3 linked regions of the Homo sapiens genome follow. The protein of the gene in region 2 interacts with the protein of the main gene of each other region in a pairwise test. Each region holds a gene or a part of one and is shown on either strand. Other genes may lie near its edges.

Region 1 (7,799 bases), about 55 Mb from region 2:
TTTCAAAAAAAAAAACACCAAAACACCTCATAAAAAGACCTAGGTTTATATTGTTTTCTGCTAAATCAGGAACTAGGAAGTTGTAAATTTTTTTTCTTTTAAGATAAATGATATTTTCAAACGCATCCCTTCAAACACAACTGCTCACCTGCCACGGTGACTGCCTCTGTCAAGCACAGCGTAACATGTTGCGCCTCCATCCCTCCTCCAGGAAACTCTGTCATTCCCTGAGAATCTCGATTTATTTGGGCTAACAACATCTTCTACCTTGAAGAAAAATAAAGACACTTGGGAACAAAGAATGATACATGTGAAATGAAAGTTACAAAGAATATTTATGAACCACAAAAAGCTGCTGAGGATGTAATGGTGTTGGAAATAAGATGAAATTTCACTCAATATGTAGGGTAAGAGTATTAGCCCAAAGTCCAAGGCATGCTTCTTATAATTCAACAATTCAAACTGATGGGCACAATTTGTCAGTGCGCTTAGCAACTTAGAAGTACACTGACGAATTGTGCCCATCAGTTTCATATGATCTCTAGAATTCCCATAATTAGAGTCCTTTGGGTTTAGCATTGCTGAGGATTCCCACTTACAATGTGTCAGCATATTTTGTTGACTTAATCTTCAGAAATCTACCCCGAATCTGGCTACCTCTCACAACCTTCACCAGTACTTCCCTGATCTAAGCCACAACCAGTCTCTCACCTGCATTACTATAACAGCATCCTAACTTATTTCCCTGCTTCTCCATTAGCCTCCTACACTCTTCTTTTGACACAGCGGTCAGTGTCCTTTGAAGGGAAAAGTTAGCTCATGTCCCGCTTCTGCTCAAAACCTTCTGAGGACTTTCTCAGAGTAAAATCCCCAAATCCTTACACTGATCAATGAGGCCAATGATCTTGCCCCTCATTTCCTACTACTCACCATCTCATTCACTCCACTTCAGCCACATTGGCATTTTCCTCAAGCATATTGGATGTTCTGCTGCCTTAGAACGTGTTCATTTGAGTTTCCTTCTGCCTGAAACATTGTCCCCAGTATCTTCATTATTCATTCCCTACCCTCTTCAAGTCTTTGCTCAAATGGAATGAGAGCTTCCCTGTCCATCCCATTTCAAACTGCACCTCCCAACTGCTCAATCATGGTAAACCCCATCCTTCTTTTCCCCTCCATGTTTCTGCACAGTACTTATTATTTAACAAATTACATGTATTTATGTATTTAGTTTATCTATTTCCCCTTCCATGAGAATGGACAGAGACTTCTGTTTGTTTGCTCACTGCTGACTCTAGTGCCTAGAAAGTGCTTGGCCCATAGTAGAAGTACAATAGGTACAGAATAAATGGATGAATGGGCAACTCTTCTACCAATCACCAACACAACCTCCTTCTTCCCTTCTACCTCCAGGTCTCCTTACCTCTGTGGACCATGGCTTATCTCAAACAGTAGCTGGGATAATGTAGCTGCCTTGGGACAGGGAACTGAACCAGAAGATGTCTTGAGGACCTTTCCAGGTCCAAAGATCTGACTTAGCATCAATATTTAAAAGAGCAATACACAGATAGTAGTAATAATTTGTAATTCTTTTTACGTTTAGGATTGCTTGAAGAATTTTGTCTTGGAAATACTATAAACTGTACCTTCATTAGACCAAAAGTGGGAACTACTGTTCAGATACACAAAAAGGTATCAGTGCCATGATAACTGTCAGTCAAGGCTGGGTGCAGTGGCTCACACCTGGATTCACAGCACTCTGAAAGGCCAAAGCAGGTGGATCACCTGAGGTCAGGAGTTCGAGACCAGCCTGGTCAACATGGTGAAACCCTGTCTCTACTAAAAATATTAACAAATTAGCTGGATGTGGTGGCACGCACATTTAAAGAAAAAGTCAAGGGGTGACCTTTTAGGTACAAAAGGATCCATAATCTATAACTGTTCATAGAACAAGCTGAAACGTCATTTCCTTGGCACCTCCAAAAGCTGGCAGAGAAGACTCAAAGTAACACCAGTACCCTACTGTTAAGACCTGTGGGCTGCACGCGGTGGCTCATGCCTGTAATCCCAGCACTTTGGGAGGCCAGGGTGGGTGGATCACCTGAGGTCAGGAGTTCCATATCAGCCTGACCAACAAGGTGAAACCCCGTCACTACTAAAAATACAAAAATTAGCTGGGAGTGGTGGTGCACGCCTGTAATCCCAGCTACTTGGGAGGCTGAGGCAGGAAAACTGCCTGAACCCGGGAGGTGGAGGTTGCAGTGAGCCGAGATCACAACATTGCACTCCAAGCTGGGCAACAAGAGCGAAACTCCGTATGGGGGGGTGGTAAAAAAAAAAAAAAAAAAAAAAAGACCCCTGCTGAGAATAAAATTAGCATAGGCTAATTTTCAGTTACAAAAAGACAAATACTGCATTACTCTACTTTTTTTTTTTTGAGATGGCATCTCACTGTAGCCGAGGCTAGAGTGCAATGGCGTGATCTCAGATCACTGCAACCTCCACCTCCCAGGTTCAAGTGATTCTCATGCCTCAGCCTCCCGAGTAACTGGGATTACAGGTACGTGCCACCACACCTGGCTCATTTTTGTATTTTTAGTAGAGGTGGGGTTTCACCATGTTGGCCAGGCTGGTCTCGAACTTCTGACCTCAAGTGATCTGCATGCCTCAGCCTCCCAAAGTACTGGGATTACAGGTGTGAGCCACCGTGCCCAGAAAATATATGATATATGAAAGTCGAGTCTCACTCTGTCACCCAGGCTGGACTGCAGTGGCAGGACCCTGCAACCTCAAATTCTTGGGCTCATGTGATCCTCCTGCCTCAGCCTCCTGAGTAGCTGGGATTATAGGCATAAGCCACACCCAGCCTTGAGTTATATTTAAATATAGCCAGAGTGTAAGCATGTTCCATTAATTAAATATAATTCAGTGAAGTAAAAAGTAATTAGAACGTGCTAGCAAATGAGATAGAGTTCTCGCAGACTCCATATGATGCTAAGGGTTAAAGTATGGGCAAAGAGTTCATACTGCCAATTCTAATTGGGGCAGAATATCCTATTGGATAGGTGAAATGTTGAAACTTGAAGGCTTTGTGCAGTTCCAGGACTATTCAAAAACTGAATATATGAAACTGACTGGCAGGTAGGTAGAGCCTGATACCTTTGAAGTGACAACAGAGATAGGACCTACTAGGCTTAAAGCTAAAAATACCTGTCAGGAAAGAGCTGAGAGCAGAGACAAGAATTTAGAAATGAACATCTAGGTCTAGTCATTAGGTATCCCCATTTTGGTGATGGTTTGATCTCAACTGAACTATTGATGTGAAAAAGAACAAAAAACACCTCTCTTAAACTTCAATAAAGTAGCACTAATGGACATGGTTTAATAAGGGCACTCCATGCACAGAGCAGTTTGGTAAGCATGCCCTGGATTGCTTTCAGCAAAACTAGGGAATATGAGGAACAGATGCAGCAGAGAAAAGAAAGAGATTCTGACATATTCCAAACACCATTTCTGATGCTGCTCTGTTAAAAAGCATGTTATTTCAAAATTACAATGCCAGACTGTACGTTATTACCCCCAAGAGGAACACTGTATATGCTACTATTTTATCACCCAAATTGCTCATCGTGACATAGGTAAGGAAAGCAAAGCATCATTAGATAATTGTGAAAATTATAGAAGGAATTCCTGACAGACAACTTTTTTTTTTTTTTTTTTTTTGGAGATGGAGTCTCACTCTTGTCGCCCAGGCCAGAGTGCAGTGGCGCCATCTCAGCTCACTGTAACTTCCACCTCCCAAGTTCAAGCAGTTCTGTCTCAGCCTCCTGAGTAACTGGGATTACAGGCGCACACCACCATGCCCAGGTAATTTTTTGTATTTTTAGTAGAGAAGGGTTTTCACCATGCTGGCCAGGCGGGTCTTGAACTCCTGACCTCATGATCCACCCGCCTCAGCTTCCCAAAGTGCTGGGATTAAAGGCACGAGCCATTGCGCCAGCCAGCCATGATTTTCACCCTTTAAAATTTTTCTTGTTGGGCATGGTGGCTCACACCTATAATCCCAGCACTTTGAAAGGCTGAGGCGGGTGGATCACCTGAAGTCAGGAGTTTGAGAACAGCCCGGACAACATGACAAAACCCTGTCTCTACTAAAAATATAAGAAAATCAGCCGGGTATGGTGGCGGGTGCCTATAATCCCAGCTACTCCCAGCTGAGGCAGGAGAATCACTTGAACCCGGAGGGTGGAGGCAGCAGTGAGCCAAGATGGTGCCACTGCACTCCAGCCTGAGCTACAGAGTAAAACTCTATCTCAAAAAAAAAAAAAAAACACTTTCCTTTTTCATCCCCTCACTTAAGAGTATTACACATAGTTGGCCAGGGCGCAGTGGCTCACTCCTGTAATCCCAGCACTTTGGGAGGCCAAGGCGGGTGGATCACGAGGTCAGGAGATTGAGAGCATCCTGGCTAACACGGTGAAACCCCGTCTCTACTAAAAAATACAAAAAATTAACCAGGCGGTGGCATGCACCTGTAGTCCCAGCTACTCCGGAGGCTGAGGCAGGAGAATGGCGTGAACCCGGGAGGCAGAGCTTGCAGTGAGCCGAGATCGCGCCACTGCACTCCAGCCTGGGTGACACAGAGAGACTCTGTGTCAAAAAAACACACACACACACACAAAAAAAAACCAGAGTATTACTCTATTGTAATATTTAAAAGTATTACAATAATATCTTTACTGCTCTCTGCACCATATTCTCATCGTTTCAGTCTAAAAACAGTCAGCTATTTTATTGTGTTTTGTAGACCATTAAAATTTTCCTTGCAGGCTGGGCATGATGGCTCACACCTGTAACTGCAGCACTTGGGGAGGCCAAGGAGGGAAGACGGCTTGAGGCCAGGAGTTCAAGACCAGCCTGGGCAACACAGTGAAACCCTGTCTCTACGGAAAATAAAAAAAAGGAAAAAATTATGCCGGGAGTGGTGGCTCACATCTGTAATCCCAGCACTTTGGGAGGCTGAGGTGGGTGGATCACCTGAGGTCAGGAGTTCGAGACCACCCTGGCCAACATGGTGAAACCCAGTCACTACTAAAAATACAAAAATTAGCCAGGCGTGGTGGCAGACGCCTGTAATCCCAGCTACTAGGGAGGCTGAAGCAGGAGAATCGCTTGAATCCGGGAGACGTAGGTTGCAGTGAGCCGAGATCACATCATTGCACTCCAGCCTGGGCAACAAGAGCAAGACTCCATCTCAAAAAAAAAGAAAAGAAAAGAAAAAAATTAGGCTGCGCATGGTGGCTCACGTCTGTAATCCCAGCACTCTGGGAGGCTGAGATGGGTGGATCACCTAAGGTCAGGAGTTCAAGACCAGCCTGGCCAACATGGTGAAACCCTGTCTCTACTAAAAATACAAAAATTAGCCAGATGTGGTGGCAGGTGCCTGTAATCCCAGATACTCAGGATGCTGAGGAAGGAGAATCACTTGAGCCTGGGAGCTGGAGGTTGCAGTGAGCCGAGATCTAGCCACTGCACTCCAGCCTGGGTGAACTCCCTCTCAAAAAAAAAAAAAATTAGCCAGACATGGTAGCTTGGACCTGTAATACCAAGCCACTTGGGAGGCTGAGGAGAAGGGAGGATCACTTGGGCCTGGGAGGTAGAGGCTGCAGTGAGCTGTGATTGTGCCACTGTACTCCTGCCTGGGAAACAGAGAGAAATCCTCCCAAAAGCAAAAAAAGAAAACAAACAAACAAACAAAAAACAAAAAACTTTTCCTTGCATACAATATTGTAATATAAATTTAAAACTTATAATAATAAGTCCTTTGGGAGGCCAAGACGGGCAGATTATGAGGTCAGGTGAAACCCCGTCTCTACCAAAAATACAAAAAAAAAAAAAAAAATTAGCCAGGCGTGGTGGCGGGCGCCTATAGTCCCAGCTACTAGGGAGGCTGAGGCAGGAGAATGGTGTGAACCTGGGAGGCAGAGCTTGCAGAGAGCCGAGATCACGCCACTGCACTCCAGCCTGGGCGACAGAGTGAGACTCCATTTCAGAAAAAATAAATAAATAAATAAATAAAAGTACCAGCCAGGCACGGTGGCTTGCACCTGTAATCCCAGCACTCTGGGAGCCAAGGCAGGCGGATCACAAGGTCAGGAGTTCAAGACCAGCCTGGCCAACATGGTGAAACCCCGTCTCTACTAAAAATAAAAAAATTAGCTGGGCATGGTGGCGTGCTTCTGTAATCCCAGCTACTTGGGAGGCTGAGGCAGGGGAATCACTTGAACCCGGGAGGCGGAGGTTGCAGTGAGCTGAGATCGCACCACTGCACTCCAGCCTGGGTGACAGAGTAAGACTCCGTCTCAAAACAAATAAAATAAATAAAAAAAATAGTAAGTCCCAATAGCTTAACAAATCAAACATTTTCAGTTTTCCTGGTTTTATTCTCTAGCCCTTGCTATCCACATACATACAAAATTTTTACAGCATTGTAATTATCATATACATAACATTTTGTATTCAGCTTTTTTTATTCCTATAAATTTTCCTAAGTTGTCAAAAATTCTTCACAATGATCACTTTTAATTCACATTTAACAAATTAATTACCCTTATAGGCCATTTAGCATTATTATTATTTTTTTTTTGAGACAGAGTCTCCCTCTGTCGCCCAGGCTGGAATACAGTGACGCGATCTCGTCTCACTGCAACCTCTGCCTCCTGGGTTCAAGCAATTCCCCTGCCTCAGCCTCCTGAGTAGCTGGGATTACAGGTGCCCGCCACCATGCCCAGCTAATTTTTTGTATTTTTTTAGTAGAGACGGGATTTCACCATGTTGGTCGGGCTCATCTTGAACTCCTGACCTCGTGATCCACCCACCTCGGCCTCCCAAAGTGCTGGGATTACAGGCGTGAGCATTATTCTTATTATGTAATTAACACACACCATTGATTGATTGATTGATTGATTGAGACAGGGTCTTGTTCTGTCCCCCAGGCTGGAGTGCAGTGGTGCAATCTCAGCTCACTGCAACCTCCACCTCCCAGGTTCAAGAGATTCTCCTGCCTCAGCCTCCCGAGTAGCTGGGATTAAAGGCATGGGCCACCCCACCTGGCTAATTTTTGTATTTTTAGTAGAGACAGGGTTTCACCATGTTGGCCAGGCTGGTCTCAAATTCCTGACCTCAGGAGATCCACCTGCCTCAGCCTCCCAAAGTACTGGGATTATAGGCGTGAGCCACCACGCCTGGCCTACAAACGTTTTTCTAAAAATTAGCTGGGCATTGTGGCGTGCACCTGTAGTCCTAGCTACTCTGGAGTCTGAGGTGGGAGGATCACTTGTGCCAGGGAGGTTGAGGCTGCAGTGAGCTGAGATCATGCCACTGCACTCCAGTCTGGGTGAGAGTGAGACCCTGTCTCTTAAAAAAAATGGATTTTTAATATCTATACACAAATACACACACACACACACACACACACACACAAACACACACACACGACATCCCTAAATGAAACATGTAGGCATTTAAAAGAATGAGATCTATCTATCTGAAACAGTGAGAAACATGTCCAAGATATATGGTAAGTGGGAAAAAGCAAGTTGCAGAAAAGTAGATACCATATGATTGCATTCATTTATTTAAAAATGTATATAGTTATCTGTATATGCTTGTATGAACATTTAAAAATTCAGTGCTTACCTTCCAGAAATGGAACTATGCTATGAGGGTGGAGTGGTTTTTTATTTTAAAAATAAAACCATGTAGTAGAGGCACAGTTCAATGCAGCCATGCCACGTTTC
Region 2 (7,759 bases):
GCCAACACCTCCCCTACAAGATATGCATTGCCAGGCCTCTGCAGGCCCCAGCCCTGGCCTCCAAGCAAGATGGTTTGTCACTCTGCACCTGTGTCTCCACAAAGAAGATTCCTGTAGACTCGTGGGCCTCGGGTCCCCCACTCAGGTAGTGCTTCCTCACCTGCTCAGAAGTCAGGCTGCACCTGGACAAGAACACAAGGGTGGCTTAGTGGGTGACCAGCCCCTGCGGGGTACCTGTGGAGCCACAGCTGCCTCAGCCCACTCCTCACCACCCACCTTCCCAAGACCCAGGATCATGTACCCGAGCCTACTCACTGGACATAGAACTCGGCACTGGCTCGGCCAGCACTGGTCTCATTTCGGGCGATGCCCAACAGCAGGGGCTGGCTCAGGGTGAGCAGCGGCAGGTTCACCTGCGGTGGAGGGTGGGGTGGGGGGAGGTCCCACCTATCAATGCCACTGCCCACATCCCTGCCCGTCTCAATGAAAAACCGCCTGTTACCTGTGTACAGCATTTTATAGCTTGTAGATCAAGGACCCAGCATTACAGAATGTCAGATGATGGGCATGTTTGTTTTACAGGTACACCAAAACCAGAGAGATTGAACACGTTGCCCAAGGTCACCCAAGAGAAGTCAATTTAGTGACTGGGACTCCCACTTACTCCTTTTTCTTTTTTTCTTTTTTTGAGATGGAGTCTCGCTCTGTCGCCCAGGCTGGAGTACAGTGGCACGATCTCAGCTCACTGCAACCTCTGCCTCCCAGGTTAAAGTGATTCTCCTGCCTCAGCCTCCTGAGTAGCTGGGATTACAGGTGCACGCCACAACGCCTGGCTAATTTTTTGTATTTTTAGTAGAGATGGGGTTTCTCCATGTTGGCCAGGCTGGTCTCGAACTCCTGACCTCAGGTGATCCGCTGGCCTTGGCCTCCCAAAGTGCTGGGATTACAGGTGTGAGCCACCACACCCTGCCACACTTACTCCTTTTTCTTTTTTTTGAGACGGAGTCTCGCTTTGTCGCCCAGGCTGAAGTGCAGTGGCGCGATTTCGGCTCACTGCAACCTCCGCCTCCCGGGTTCACGCCATTCTCCTGCCTCAGCCTCCTGAGTAGCTGGGACTACAGGTGCCCGCCACCACGCCCGGCTAACTTTTGGTATTTTTAGTAAAGTCAGGGTTTCACCGTGTTAGCCAGGATGGTCTTGATCTCCTGACCTTGTGATCTGCCCACCTCAGCCTCCCAAAGTGCTGGGATTACAGGCATGAGCCACGGCGCCCGGCCACTTACTCCTTTTTCAACAGACTTGGGGAGTAGGCAAGATATTTATCATTGTTTCCATTGAAAAGAAGAATCCTTGGCGGGGCAAGGCATGAGAATCACTTGAACCCAGGAGGCGAAGGTTGCAGTGAGCCGATATGCCACCACTGCACTAGCCTGGGCAACAGAGCAAGACTCTGTCTCAAAAAGAAAAAAAAAAAAAAGAAGAAGAATCCGGCCTGGTGCAGTGGCTCACACCTGTAATCCCAGCACTTTTGGAGGCTGAGGCAGGCAGATCACGAGGTCAGGAGATCAAGACCATCCTGGCTAACAAGGTGAAACCCCATCTCTACTAAAAATACAAAAAAAATTAGCCAGGCATGGTGGCGGATGCCTGTAGTCCCAGCTACTCAGGAGGCTGAGGTAGGAGAATGGCGTGAACCCGGGAGGTGGAGCTTGCAGTGAGCAGAGATCGTGCCACTGCATTCCAGCCTGGGCAACAGAGCGAGACTCTGTCTAAAAAAAAAAAAAGAAAGAAAAAAGAAAAGAAGAAGAATCCAAGGCAGAGGGTACTGAGGGCTAGAATTCCACTCCAAGTATGTATAGCTGCAAAGCCAACTTCTTCCCTCATTGCTGGCCAGATGCCTGCAGGCCTCCTGCCAGCCCAGACCTGTAGAATTCTGGCAAGTCCTACCCCCTCCCTTCATGTCTACCACCCTGTCCAGGTCAACCTCACTCACCTCATCACAGATCTCCTGAAGGACACTGGAAAAGAGTTCATGTACCACCAGCTGCCCAGCGAGGTCCTGGTGCTGGGGGCTGCCACCAGGGCACAGGGCCTGTGAGAGGTCAGGCTCAGCCCCTGCTCCCCACCTCTTCCCCCTGCCCCATCTCAGGACCAGCAAGCCTATACCTGCTGGCCTTGAGGGTCTGATGTGGCACAGTGTAAGAGAGTTAGTGATCCTGAGTCTGGTGTCCTTTCCCTGACAGACAACCAGAGGTCCAGCTTCAAAGGAGATACACAGGGGGCAGGGGTGGAGTAGGGCATCTTCTTCCTGTGCCCAATCTTTCCTCCCGTGTTTTCTAGTTTCTCACAGGACTGGGGCAGGGGTCAGTGGGGAGGCAGGTGGACTGCCCTGAGCAAACTTCCAGAGAAATACCAGGCCAATTTTCCCTTTAAGGAATGAGGAAACCAAAGCTGGGAGGATTGGGAGGGTGGAGAGCTGCAGCTCCCTTGAGCTGTCTGGGTCTTTGTGCCCAGCCTGGAATCTCACCTGAGGCTCAGGGTGCCCACCAGGTACGTCCACCAGCCCAGGGGCCTCAGCCACCTGCCGGGAGCGGCGCAGGAAGACAAGGAAGTCATCGGCTGTGGCTAGTGCAGCGCCCACCCCCAGTGGGTCCGCCAGATAGGCCTGCGTGTCACCCCAGTCGGTGGCACCCTGCTGTCGCAGCCAGGCAGCTGAGCTGGACCAGTTGGTGCCCAGGAAGTCTCGGTAGGAAGTAAGGCCCAGGCGCAGGAGCAGCTGTGGCCCCCGAGAGCCAATAGGCGCCAGGGTGGCTGAGTGCAGGCGGAACTTGGGGGCGTCGAAGAGCCAGGGTTGGGCCTTTAGCCGGGTCTCCCAGATGGCAGTGATGGCCTCGTCCCCACCTGGCAGTGGGCGACGGTCATGGGCGGGGCTCAGCTCGGCCTGTATCTGCTCCTGGGGCAGGCCCCCGCCAGGGCACTGCAGCAGCAAGGTCACCTCAGGATCCATGGTCTGAACGGGGCAGCTCTGGGGGAGGATACGGCCAGGCCTGTCATCCAGGGGGGCCACTACCACTCCTGGGCTGCGCAGCTAGCCCCCTCTGTCGCAGACCTCCTGAGGGTATCCGCAGCGCTTCTCCACCCCCCTGACCACTCCTTGGGCAGTAAAACGTGCCATCTTCCCCGCAGGAGCCCCGAGTCCCGCAGGGTATCCAGGACGCCCGGGCATCCCTACCATCCAGAGGTCTTGGGTTCAGGCGCCCCAAATGCCCATGTCCCCCAAACCCAGGGGTCTGCCTCCGACCCGGGGCGCGCGGGGACCCCTTTCCAGGGCCCGGAAGCTCCAGCCTCCAGCGGGCGCTCACCAGCCGCCGGGTCCCTCAGGCTCCGCCCCTTCCCCGAAGCGGAAGTGCCCGCCCCCTTTCCACGCGGCTTTTCATTGGCGGGTCCGCCGCGGTCGAGGATCCTGGAGGTTTGTCCCCGCCGCCCCGACGCTTCCGCCCGGTCCGTCGGCACGTCGGCCCTGCCTCCCGGACCACCCTGCGGGGCGCACCAGCGATCTGGGGTGCGGGGCTCGGCCTCCCTGCGCTCCTGGCTGACCGTGTGACCTTGGGCAAGTCTGGCCTGCTGGGCCTTAGTTTCCCTCTCTGCAGCAGGGACTTGGGGGTGGTGAACTTAATGAGCCGTATACTCCCACCCAGCGCTCACTTCCTGAGGCTTTGTGACTTTCTGGGAGGGATGGGGACGTGGAAGGGGCCTTAAAGCAGTCCCCCCTCGTCACTGCCCCCCACAGGTCTTAACCATGAACTTCTCTGGAGGAGGGAGGCAGGAAGCAGCAGGGTCCAGGGGTAGAAGGGCTCCCAGACCCCGAGAACAGGTGCGCGCCTCCTCCCCACCCCCTCCCACCAGTCCAGGCTCCCTGGGAGTTGCTGGGGGGCGGAGCTGAAGGGTCCTACTATTCCTGGAGACCACTGGCACTCCTTTCTCTCTGGGCTCTCTCTGCAGTGGGTCATTGAGGGTTCAGGATGGGCAGTAGGGCAGGGTCACCATGGAGACTAGGGGCCACCGCTGGGTTCTTTCAGGACCGAGACGTGCAGCTGTCCAAGGCTCTGTCCTATGCCCTGCGCCATGGGGCCTTGAAGCTGGGGCTTCCCATGGGAGCTGGTAAGTAGGGGCCTTGGAGGCTGGGGCTTGAGCCCAGAGAGAAACGTGAGCCTGTCTGCGACTCCTCCCTGATGGCTGCCTCCACCGCTCCCTGAGGAAGGCACAGAGTGCACTTCCTCCCCATGCACAGAGGAGAGCAAGGCCTAGAGCCCCTGTCATGTCCACAGCAGACTGAGGAGAGTTCTTGTCTGGGCCAGGCCTGGTGACCGCCCCCTCCAGCCAAGCAGCCAGATCAGCACTTACCCCGAGGGCGAGCCCTGGAGGATACGGTGCAGCTGGTGGTGTGAGTGTGCACTCCGGGCCAGCGCTATGCTGGGCACTCACCTCCCTGCCCCTCCGTGAGGCAGATCCTCTTTTTATGTAAGTTGAAAAAACTGCGGCCCAGAAAGGGGAGACTTTCTAAAGGTCCCACAGAGGATGCCCAAGCGATCTCCAAGCCCAGACTTTGTTTCGGTTGCCTGTGGCTCCCTGTTAACCCTGGCCCAGTCCAGAGCAAGGTTAGCTCCTGAGCACCCTGCCTGCCCACAGATGGCTTCGTGCCCCTGGGCACCCTCCTGCAGTTGCCCCAGTTCCGCGGCTTCTCTGCTGAAGATGTGCAGCGCGTGGTGGACACCAATAGGAAGCAGCGGTTCGCCCTGCAGCTGGGGGATCCCAGCACTGGCCTTCTCATCCGGGCCAACCAGGGCCATTCCCTGCAGGTCGGGGTGAGGGGACAAGTGCGAGACGAGATGGGAGGGACCCCTGCCTGCGAAGGGGGTCTCACTGCTACCCGTTCAACCAGGTACCTAAGTTGGAGCTGATGCCCCTGGAGACACCGCAGGCCCTGCCCCCGATGCTAGTCCATGGTACATTCTGGAAGCACTGGCCATCCATCCTACTCAAAGGCCTGTCCTGCCAGGGAAGGACGCACATTCACCTGGCCCCAGGACTGCCTGGAGACCCCGGTATCATCAGTGGTCAGTGCCCTCCCCTCCACCTAGCTACTCCCACCCACTCTGTCCTCCCAGGTCCCCTTCAAAGGTTACAACACTTGTCTGGGGCCACCCCATGTCCGGCATGGAGCAGCACCCCTGCATCCCCCAGCCCAGGACCCCAGTCTGCCTAGGTTGCTGACTGCACTCCAGGTGCCCAGGCCTCAGCTCCAGCTGTCTCTGCAGGCATGCGGTCCCATTGTGAAATAGCTGTGTTCATCGATGGACCCCTGGCTCTGGCAGGTGAGTCTGGACAAAGCAGGAGCTGCCCTTGCCTTCGGGGAGGGCATGAGTCACATCTCTGGCTCTGTCAGCAGATGGAATACCCTTCTTCCGCTCTGCCAATGGGGTGATTCTGACTCCAGGGAATACTGATGGCTTCCTCCTTCCCAAGTACTTCAAGGAGGCCCTGCAGCTACGCCCTACCCGTGAGAACCACCACCCCAGCCCCTATTCCTTGTTCCTGAAAGCTGTGCCCTTCTGCCCTCACCTCTCTCCTAGCTTCCAACCCTAGACTGACTTAGGTGTCCCTTTCTCTAACCAACTCTTGTCTTTATCAGGAAAGCCCCTTTCCTTGGCTGGTGATGAAGAGACAGAGTGTCAGAGTAGCCCCAAGCACAGCTCCAGAGAAAGGAGGAGGATCCAACAATAAAATATTAATTTATAAAAAAGAAATTTTAAAAAGTAACAAGAAAGAACTCGTTTGAAACCATGTTTCATCATCCTGTAGCTACATCTGGTCTTCCTTGTGTGCTGGGGGACTGCAGATAGGTCAGGGGTATCAGCCTCAGCCACTCAGACAAGGAAAGGGGGCACCACATGAGCTCAGGGACCCCCACCCCCATCCCTGGCCTGGGTGATGGTACAGCGTCTGGCCCTGCCAGGTCCTTGGCCTGCACAAAGTCAGTGACAGCAGGTGAAATGCCCAGCTGGGTGCCTGCCTGGAGCGGGTGTGGGGCAGTGAGCCCCTGTGGGTGTGGGCTTGGGAGTGGCTGTGACAGGGTGGTGAGCAGGGCAGGGGCAATCAGACAGCCCTCAGAAGGCCTCATGGCCCCCGGTGAGCTGCAGGAAGAGGTCTTCATCCAGCTCCTCCCCACGGGCCCGCTCCCGCGTCGACAGGAAAATGTAGCCCCCGATATACTCGTGTACAATTCGGCAGCTGGCAGACACGCAGCTGAAGGCCACATTGATGTGTTCATCAAACTCGATGGCCACCTGAAGGGCAGACAGAGGGGCAAATGGTGGGTGGGATAAGGGAGCAGCCCCTGCCCCACCCTGGCTGGATCCAGCTCCGGCCTGCACCTGTCCCCCATCCATATACCCTGGGTCTGGGCCCACCTGCCGGATGTCCCAGTTGACATTCCACTGGCGCATGTTGCTGAAACGCCAGGTCTTGACCACGTCGCCCACGGCCAAGTCGATGCGGATCAGTCGGTTGTTGGCGATGCCCAGGATCTCGTCTTTCCTGCTGCCCTTGAACCTGGCCCCCAGGGAGAGAGAGTGAGCCAGGGCTCCACCCTGCATGGCCAGAGCCCGCCCAGACAATGTGGCGCCGTGCTGGAGAGCCAGCCCTTCCCGACTGCAGCTCACCAGCTGTGTAACCCTGAGCAAGCCATTTGGGTTCCCTGGGCCTCAAGTTCCTCATCTGGTAAATGGGGGTTAATTGATAAAATCCCCACAACAGCATTTAGCAGCATCGGGCAAACAGGCCAAGCCTTTAAATGGTAACTTTTTTTGGTTTTTGTTACCATCCTCATCAACTGCTGTCTCCCTCCCTTCTTTGCAGTCTTGGGAAACAACTAATCAAAGGGGCCCACTCCCCATAACAGCATCCACCGCTAGCCCTGTCTTGCGGACCGGCGAACCCAGGCCCAGACAGTGAACTGTCCACAGCAGAGCTGGAGCAAGAACTGGTTCTTCTGCTCTCCTGACCTGAAATCTCTTTTTTTTTTTTTTTTTTTTTTGAGACGGAGTGTCGCTTTGTTGCCAGGCTGGAGTACAGTGGCTCGATCTCGGCTCACTGCAACCTCCGCCTCCCGGGTTCAAGTGATTCTCCTGTCTCAGCCTCCCGAGTACATGGGATTACAGGTACGTGCCACCACTTGTGGCTGATTTTTGTGTTTTTAGTAGAGACGGGGTTTCACCATGTTGGTCAGGCTGGTCTCGAACTCCTGACCTCATGATCTGCCTGCCTTGGCCTCCCAAAGTGCTGGGATTACAGGCATGAGCCATCGCGCAGGCTCTTTTATTTATTTATTTATTTATTTATTTATTTATTTATTTATTTGAGACTGAGTCTCACTCGTTCGCACCCAGGCTGGAGTGCAGTGGCACAATCTCGGCTCACTGCAACCTCCACCTCCCGAGTTCAAGACATTCTCCTGCCTCAGCCTCCCGAGTAGCTGGGATTATAGGCGCCTGCCACCACACTCGGCTAATTTTTGTATTTTTAGTAGATACAGGGTTTCACCATGTTGGTCAGGCTGGTCTCACACTCCTGACCTCAAATAATCTGCCCGCCTCGGTCTCCCAAAGTGCAAGGATTACAGACGTGAACCACCGTGCCCCGCCTATTTGTTTTTTGTTTTGTTTTGTTTTTTGGAGGCAGAGTTTCGCTCTGTCACCCA
Region 3 (7,654 bases), on a different chromosome or scaffold from region 2:
TGCCTTCCCAACAGTCCCTCCAAAGTCTTAAGTCATTTCGGCATTAACCCGAAAGTCCACAGTCCAAAATTTCATCTGAGACAAGGCAAGTCCCTTCCACCTATGAACCTGTAAAATCAAAAGCAAGCTAGTTACTTCCTAGATAAAATGCGGATATAGGTACTGGGTAAATACAGCCATTCCAAATGGGAGAAATTGGGCAAAACAAAGGGGTTACAGTCCCCATGCAAGTCTGAAATCCAGCAGGGTAGTCAAATCTTAAAGCTCCAAAATGATCTCCTTTGACTCCATGTCTCACATCCAGGTCACGCTGAAGCAAGAGGTGAATTCCCATGGTCTTGGACAGCTCCTCCCCTGTGGCTTTCCAGGGTACCGCCTCCCTTCTGGATGTTTTCATGGGCTGGCAATGAGTGTCTGTGGCTTTACCAGGCACACAGTGCAATTTGTCGGTGGATCTCCCATTTTGGGGTCTGGAGGATGCTGGCCCTCTTCTCACAGCTCCACTAGGTGGTGCCCCAGTAGGGACATTTCCCTTTCACATTGCCCTAGCAGAGGTTCTCCATGAGAGTTCCAACCCTGCAGCAAACTTCTGCTTGGACATCCAGGCATTTCCATATATCCTCTGAAATCTAGGCGGAGATTCCCAAACCTCAATTCTTGACTTCTGTGCACTCACAGGCTTAACACCATGCGGAAGCTGCCAAGGCTTGGGGCTTGCATCCTCTGAAGCCATGGCCCAAGCTCTATGTTGGCCCCTTTCAGCCATGGCTGGAGCAGCTGGGATGCAGGGCACCAAGTCCCTAGGCTGGACACAGCATGGGGACCCTGGTCCCGGCCCATGAAACCATTTTCTCCTAGGCCTGCGGGCCTGTGATGGGAGGGGCTGCTGTGAAGATTTCTGACATGCCCAGGAGACATTTTCCCCATTGTCTTGGGGATTAACATTTGGCTACTTGTCACTTATGCAAATTTCTGCAGCCAGCTTGAATTTCTCCTCAGAAAACAGGTTTTTCTTTTCTTTTTTCTTTCTTTCTTTCTTTTTTTTTTTTTTTATTATACTTTAAGTTCTGGGGTACATGTGCAGAACGTGCAGGTTTGTTACATGGGTATACATGTGCCATGGTCGTTTGCTGCACCCATCAACCCATCATCTACATTAGGTATTTCTCCTAATGCTCTCCCTCCCCCAGCCCCCTACCCCCCGCCAGGCCCCAGTGTGTGATGTTCCCCTCCCTGTGTCCATGTGTTCTCATTGTTCAGCTCCCACTTATGAGTGAGAACATGTGGTGTTTGGTTTTCTGTTCTTGTGTTAGTTTGCTGAGAAGGTTTTTCTTTTCTATTGCATTGTCAGGATGCAAATTTTCCAAACTTTTGTGCTCTGCTTCCCTTATAAAACTGAATGCCTTTAACAGCACCCAAGTCACCTGTTAAATGCTTTGCTGCTTAGAAGTTTCGTCTGCCAGATACCCTAAATCATCTCCCTCAAGTTCAAACTTCCATAGATCTCTAGGACAGGGCAAAATGCCACCAGTCTCTTTGCTAAAACATAACAAGAATCACCTTGGATTCCATTCCCAACAAGTTCCTCATCTCTATCTGAGACCACCTCAGCCTGGACTTTATTGTCCATATCGCTATCAGCATTTTGGGCAAAGCCATTCAACAAGTCTCTAGGAAGTTCCAAATTTTCTCACATTTTCCTGTCTTCTTCGGAGCCCTCCAAACTGTTCCAACCTCTGCCTATTACCCAGTTCCAAAGTTGCTTCCTCATTTTTGGGTAACTTTTCAGCAGCATCCCACTCTGCTGGTACCAATTTACTGTATTAGTCCATTTTCATGCTGCTGATAAAGACATATCTGAGACTGGGAAGATAAAGCAGTTTAATTGGACTTACAGTTCCACATGGCTGGGGAGGTCTCAGAATCATGGTGGGAGGTGAAAGACCCTTCCTACATGGCGGGTGGCAAGAGAGAAAAATGAAGATAAAACCGTCAGATCTCATGAGACTTATTCTCTATCATAAGAGCAGTATGGGGGAAACCGCCCCCATGATTCAAATTATCTCCCACTGGGTCCCTCCCACAACATGTGGGAATTATGGGAGTACAATTCAAGATTAGATTTGGGTGGGGACACAGAACCAAACCATATCAGATGGGTCAGGGTAAGTTTGGCTGGATGTAACAAAAGATGGACAGTAAGTGTAACTAGGTGAGGGGAGGTTGTCCCTACTGTCTAGCACTGATCTTTAGGTATATCATTGTTGAGGCTATTTTGTCCACACCATCTTCATCTTTCAAGATCTCTACCCTCTATTGAGGGCATGGATGGAGGAAGTGGGGAGTACCATGATTGTTGACAAGGTGGCCACCCACAAGGGCAGTTTGAATGGCAGGGGGCATGAACAGGCATTCTTCTGCTGAAAGATTTATGGATAATGTTTAGGCAGCCATCAAGAGAAGGCTGGTGTCCAGCACTGTATTTCCTCTGTAAGGACTGTGTGATGTTCTCTGTCAATGGCAATGGATGGCATGCAGGTTTTGCTTTGACTTCCAATAGCTCCCACCTCTTTTTTGTCTGGCCATGTTTCCATCCTCCCCTGTAGAGTTCTGACTTCCTACTGGGAAGGCAAGGAGCAGCTTCCCACCCCACTGTTCTTAAGAATGATCAATAAGCTTTGCTCCTGTCTGAATCTACCTTGCTGACTTCCTATAACTGGGGTTGGAACTCTCTCTCTGTAAAATGTCAGATAGTGAATATTTTAGCTTTTGTGGGCCAAGAGGCAAAATCGGGAATGTTTACACAAATTTTTTGAAAAAATTCAAAACTTTATTCACAGACACTGAAATTTGAATTTTAGGTAAGTTTCATTTGTCATGTAATATTATTATTTTAATTTTTTCAACCATTAAAAAATATGAAAACCATTCTTAGCTCAATGGCCAGATAGAGTCAAGTGGCCAACTGCAGACAATAGTTTGCTGACCTCTATTCTAGAGCCTATTACTGAAGGAAAAAACCTAACCCCCCCCACACAAAAAGAAACCCTCTGAATATTAAGTGTCTTGCAGTCCAAGATGCCTCTGACTGACTCATTCACTAAAATGAATGGAAAGAGTTAGGAAGCATAGGAAAGAAAAGCATAAAGATTGTCAATACTTTAAGCTCCCATTTCCCATAAGCAGGAAGTCAAAATGTTTTAAGTCCAAACAACTGGCCAGAGCAGTGTCTTTTGAACTTGCTTCATGACCAGAATCACCTGGCTTCTTGTTGAAGCTAGATTCCCGGACTAGAGGTTTTGATGCAAGGGAGACTTCTGGGTGGGGGTGTGCTCTCGGGATCAGGTAAGCTGAAGAAACACTATTCCAGGGGGTGTAAAGGAACCTCAAAAGCTGTAGTTCTTAAAGTGTGGTCCGTGGCCCAGCAGAACCAGCATTACCTGAGAGCTTGTAAGAAATGCAAGTCTTTGGCCTACCCTAGAAACACTGAATCAGAAACTGGGGGTGGGGTCTGGCAATCTGGTTTTCATCAAGCCAGGTGGTCCTGATGCCAACTAGAATTTGAGAACGCCTGCTTCAAGGCATCATTACCAGCATCTGGAGAAGTGATTGAGAACCCACCTGAGCAGTGAAGGCCTGGGCGCTCTTAAACCACTGTGTTCTCAAGAGCGCAGGTCTGTGGGTGAGAGCAATTCTAACAGACATCTGAAGCCAAAGGCCTAGGTTTCCACAGGAAGATCTGGAAACCCTGTTCAAGGCAAGCCTTTTGGAAGTCAAGGCTGTATTCCCCTAAGAGGGGGCACCATGGATCCTAGAGATAGCAAATGCCACCCAAGGTGATGGTGAGGGAGTTTTCAGCTTTTCTGCACGTGTGACCGTTTACTGCACCAGGAGCTTTCTAGTGACTTCCACCTTTTTCAGGTTTTTCCAAGGTTCACCGGGGAACCCCTGTCCTGGGCCTGCCAGTGAGGTGCTGGGAGCTTCCCGACCTCACAAGCGGCTCTTGTGATGTAATTGCCACCTGAGGCGTGCCCCTCCTGGCCCTGGCGACATCACAGAGGCTACCTGGGCACGGACCCCGCAGCTTCCTGGGGCCCAGTCAGCCGCTCCAGGTGCTTAAGTCTGGACTGCGGAGGCCGGGGCGGTGGCGTGCAGGGTGAGGTCTCCCGGGCTGGCGCGCGTGCAAGCCCCCTGCTGCTACCTCGCGCTAGGCCAGCTCCAGGAGGGCAACAGACGACAGGACATTGCAAAAGGGCCACTTAAATTTTCCTTCGAGTAAACAGAACACCTGCCAAGACCCTCGAGCCTGGGCGTGCCCCAAGACAGGTGGTTGGGGTCTAGGAGTCGGCTGCAGCTGGCGATGCTCTGAGGGGACGTCAGGGCCTCAGGATCGCCCCTATGAAGACGAAGTGCATCTGTGAACTGTGCTCCTGCGGGTAAGGTGGCCACGCCCAGGGCAAGGCTGGGGGAGCCTGGGTTTTCAGACTCCCGAGGAAGGGAAGCCTCCCCCAGCTGCTTCATCAGGCGGCATCACGGTGGGTTCGTCCACTTGCTACGTTTTTTAAGCCACAATTGTGTCAACTAGCGTTGTGCCCGCGGACGCCACATCAGTTCTGGCGAATGTGGCTGTTTTCGGGCCTTCTGTGCCGCTTCACTTGAGAACTGCAGGAGGGTTGAAAATGGGCGTGACCGCGCAGTCTGCACTCCCTTCCCTGAAGCCCAGAAAGTGTCAGCCAAGGAGGGAGAACACCTGGCCCAGTGGGACCAGTCTTGCTCCTTTTGGGAAAGTGATAGGATGGGAGGAGAATTCCTGTAGTATAACTGAATTTCTCATTCAGAGAGATTGTTACTTTGTCAGAGAAGTATAAGGTATTAGTAAAACTTGTTCCACATTGTGTAGAGTTGAATAAGGATAATGAAAACATTACTTTCACAGTCGCCTGGCCTGCCAGGTCTCCCTTCTAACCTTTAAGGACCATCTTTGGGTGGAAGCGCAGTAAAGGTGGTCCTGGGGGAAATCATGGACTTTAGTCAGAGTCCCACGGGCTGACTGGTCTGCTGTCACTCACATGATCTCTTAGAGGCTCCTTCTATCTGCTTCCCAGGGCAGCTGGGTTTCTGCTTGGCTGGGGCAGGGAGTGGGCAGCAGAGGAGCAACAGGCAAGAGGGTTCTGAGGTCACCTTTCCTGGGCTGTCATTAATTGTGGGATCTTAGATTGGTAACTAAACTCCAGGTCATAGTCGCCTCATCTGTACCAACAATACGTACCTCATAGGACTATTGTAAGAGTTAAGATCATGTATGTGAGTCCTGGTACATGGATTGTGCTTAATATGTTAGTGTCCTGAAATCTGAAAAAAGGGCAAATATGACACATGCATATAAAAATGGTATCAGTAGTGTGGAGAATTAAAGGGCACTCTAAAAACTGGATCAGCAACCTTCTATATCTCTGGCATCAATAAATGGTTCCCAACTCTGGCTGCTGATTAGAATCACACAGGGAGTTTGAAAACTATCAGTTGCTCAGGCCGTTGAATTGATACTCTCAGAGTGGGCCCTGTCAACTGTCTAAAGGTGATTCTGGCCATTTGCTAGGACTGGGACTCACTGAACTAGATCATGTACAAACGTGGGTCTTGCTTTTGAGCTTTGTTAAGTGGGGCCAGAGCAGTGTATAGTCTAGGACTACATGTTACCAAGCAAAACCTTTTTTTCTAAGGCCGCCTTTCTTTTTTCTTTTTGGAGGCAGTGTCTTGCTCTGTTGCGCAGGCTGGAGTGCAGTGGTGCCATCTCGCTTCACTGCAACCTATGCCTCAGGGTTCAAGTGATTCTCCTGCCTCAGCCTCCTGAGTAGATGGGATTACAGGCACATGCCACCATGCCTGGCTAATTTTTGTATTTTTAGTAGAGACAGGGTTTCAACCATGTTGTCCAGGCTGGTTTTGAACTCCTGATCTCAGGTGATCGCCTGCCTCGGCCTCCCAAAGTGCTGGGATTACAGGCATGAGCCACTAAGGCCTTCTTTCTACTGGGATGCTTTACATTACCCTCCTGTGTCCTCCTGCATTGTTCTAGGCATTGGGATTGAATGTATAAGACATAGTCTCCATCTTTGCACAGCGTGCAGTCTAGGTAGGAAGGCAGAATGCTCATTAAGAGGTGCAGAGCATATATAGTGAGAAGTCTCCCTCCTGCCCCTGCAGTAGGGTTATGACTCATTTGGGTGTTCCTTCTCTGACTCTGTTCTCATTCTGTCCCTGCAAAGGAGTCACTTTCCATTGGAAGCAGAGTCTGTTCTTGTGTCTCTTCTCCTTTTCTTCTCTCCTCATCCTGTATTTTCTCCTCCATTTTATGGTTTCAGCCAATAGTTTCTCCTGTCTTCTGAATTCCAGTTTCATTTTCATCTTCTCAAAGTGCTTTGGTGATCCATCTGTCTCATTAATCTCAACTTCAACAACCTTCAAACATTATTCTGGTATCTGCCCCATTCATGGTGCCAGCAATCTTCCATTCACCCTGGGTGAAAATTTTGAATCATCTCTTACTCTCCCTCAAACAGAACATTGAATCTTTTTCTTCTTCTTATTTTTTTATTTTTTTTATTTTTTTGAGATGGAGTCTTACTCTGTCGTGCAGTGGCGCGATCTCTGCTCACTGCAACCTCCGCCTGCTGGGTTCAAACGATTCTCCTGCCCCAGCCTCCCAAGTAGCTGGGATTACAGGTACCCACCACCATGCTGGGCTAATTTTTGCATTTTTAGTAGAGATGGGGTTTCACCATGTTGGCCAGCTGGTCTTAAACTCCTGACCTCAAATGATCCACCTACCTTGGCCTCCAAAAGTGTTGGGATTACAGGCGTGAGCCACCGAGCCTGGCACATTGACTCTTTTCTAAAGTCTGGGTCCCTCCTCCATTGTAATCTTTCTTTAATTGGTCCCTTCCCTTTTATTCCGGTTACAACCTCCCTGGTTCTCTCATTTTTGTGTTTGGAAACTGGTCCTAAATTACCTTCCTAGTTTTTTTTTCTCCCATGATTCCCTTACATGAAACTACACCTTGAATTGGATCAGGTTTCTTGGCATCCCCTGAGTGGACCTGCTGATGTCCCTTTTCTGATCCTTATCCTTTCCCTTTCTCTAAAATACCTATGTTCCCTCCTCCTGCTGGACTTGTAAGGCCCGGTTTCACTTGCAAGTTCCCTGTTAACCCAGCCCTGTGGCTCCCCATCAAAGAAAAACCCCGCTCCGTGTTCTCATCCTCTATGCATCAGCATGCTTTATATCCTCGATTAATTATATGTACGCTGGGAAAACAGATATTTTCTATTTTTGTGTGTGCACTGTATCATAGCAACACAGTTTTCTTTATTAACAGCTAACACATATCTTTTTGAATGAATGGATGGCGTTTTTTGTTTGTCAAGGTCATAACATGCTGGACTGGGTTAGGAATGTAAGATTTAGAGATGTACTGTCCAGTATGGTAGCCAGCTGTGGCAATTTCATTTAAATAAATGAAAGTTAAATAAAACTAAAAATTCAGTTTCTCAGCTGCACAAGCCACATGTCAAGTGCTCAGTAGCTACTCGAGTATAGTCACTCCCATACCGGCACATGCAGATAGGGAGTGTTTCCATCACTGCGGAAAGT

What was found. The genes of interacting proteins can lie anywhere in the genome.
Region 1: the proteins of NUDT22 (region 2) and ZNF143 interact in binary tests that used the Homo sapiens proteins (3 or more experiments, as listed by UniProt).
Region 3: the proteins of NUDT22 (region 2) and SAXO1 interact in binary tests that used the Homo sapiens proteins (3 or more experiments, as listed by UniProt).

Annotation. Positions count from the first base shown.
Region 1 is NC_000011.10:9,463,770-9,471,568, reverse strand, and holds part of ZNF143 (zinc finger protein 143), read right to left. Parts: exon of another isoform or gene 7,699-7,799; intron 1,840-7,698; exon of another isoform or gene 1,647-1,839; intron 1,027-1,646; exon of another isoform or gene 931-1,026; intron 268-930; 5' UTR 264-267; coding exon of another isoform or gene 261-263; coding exon 149-260; intron 1-148. UniProt on the Homo sapiens protein: Transcriptional activator. Activates the gene for selenocysteine tRNA (tRNAsec). Binds to the SPH motif of small nuclear RNA (snRNA) gene promoters. Participates in efficient U6 RNA polymerase III transcription via its interaction with CHD8.
Region 2 is NC_000011.10:64,221,901-64,229,659, reverse strand, and holds the start of NUDT22 (uridine diphosphate glucose pyrophosphatase NUDT22), read right to left. Parts: upstream 3,387-7,759; 5' UTR 3,236-3,386; coding exon of another isoform or gene 3,233-3,235; exon of another isoform or gene 3,026-3,232; coding exon of another isoform or gene 3,008-3,025; coding exon 2,528-3,007; intron 2,260-2,527; coding exon of another isoform or gene 2,167-2,259; intron 2,093-2,166; coding exon 1,994-2,092; intron 515-1,993; exon of another isoform or gene 414-514; coding exon 316-413; exon of another isoform or gene 183-315; coding exon 89-182; exon of another isoform or gene 1-88. Other genes in the region: TRPT1 (tRNA 2'-phosphotransferase 1), read left to right, coding at 3,800-3,874, 4,080-4,161, 4,690-4,865, 4,943-5,117, 5,319-5,375, 5,450-5,560, 5,693-5,784; FERMT3 (fermitin family homolog 3 long isoform), read right to left, coding at 6,168-6,347, 6,471-6,612. UniProt on the Homo sapiens protein: Hydrolyzes UDP-glucose to glucose 1-phosphate and UMP and UDP-galactose to galactose 1-phosphate and UMP. Preferred substrate is UDP-glucose.
Region 3 is NC_000009.12:19,029,653-19,037,306, reverse strand, and holds the start of SAXO1 (stabilizer of axonemal microtubules 1), read left to right. Parts: upstream 1-4,097; 5' UTR 4,098-4,398; coding exon 4,399-4,436; intron 4,437-7,654. UniProt on the Homo sapiens protein: May play a role in the regulation of cilium length. Stabilizes microtubules at low temperature.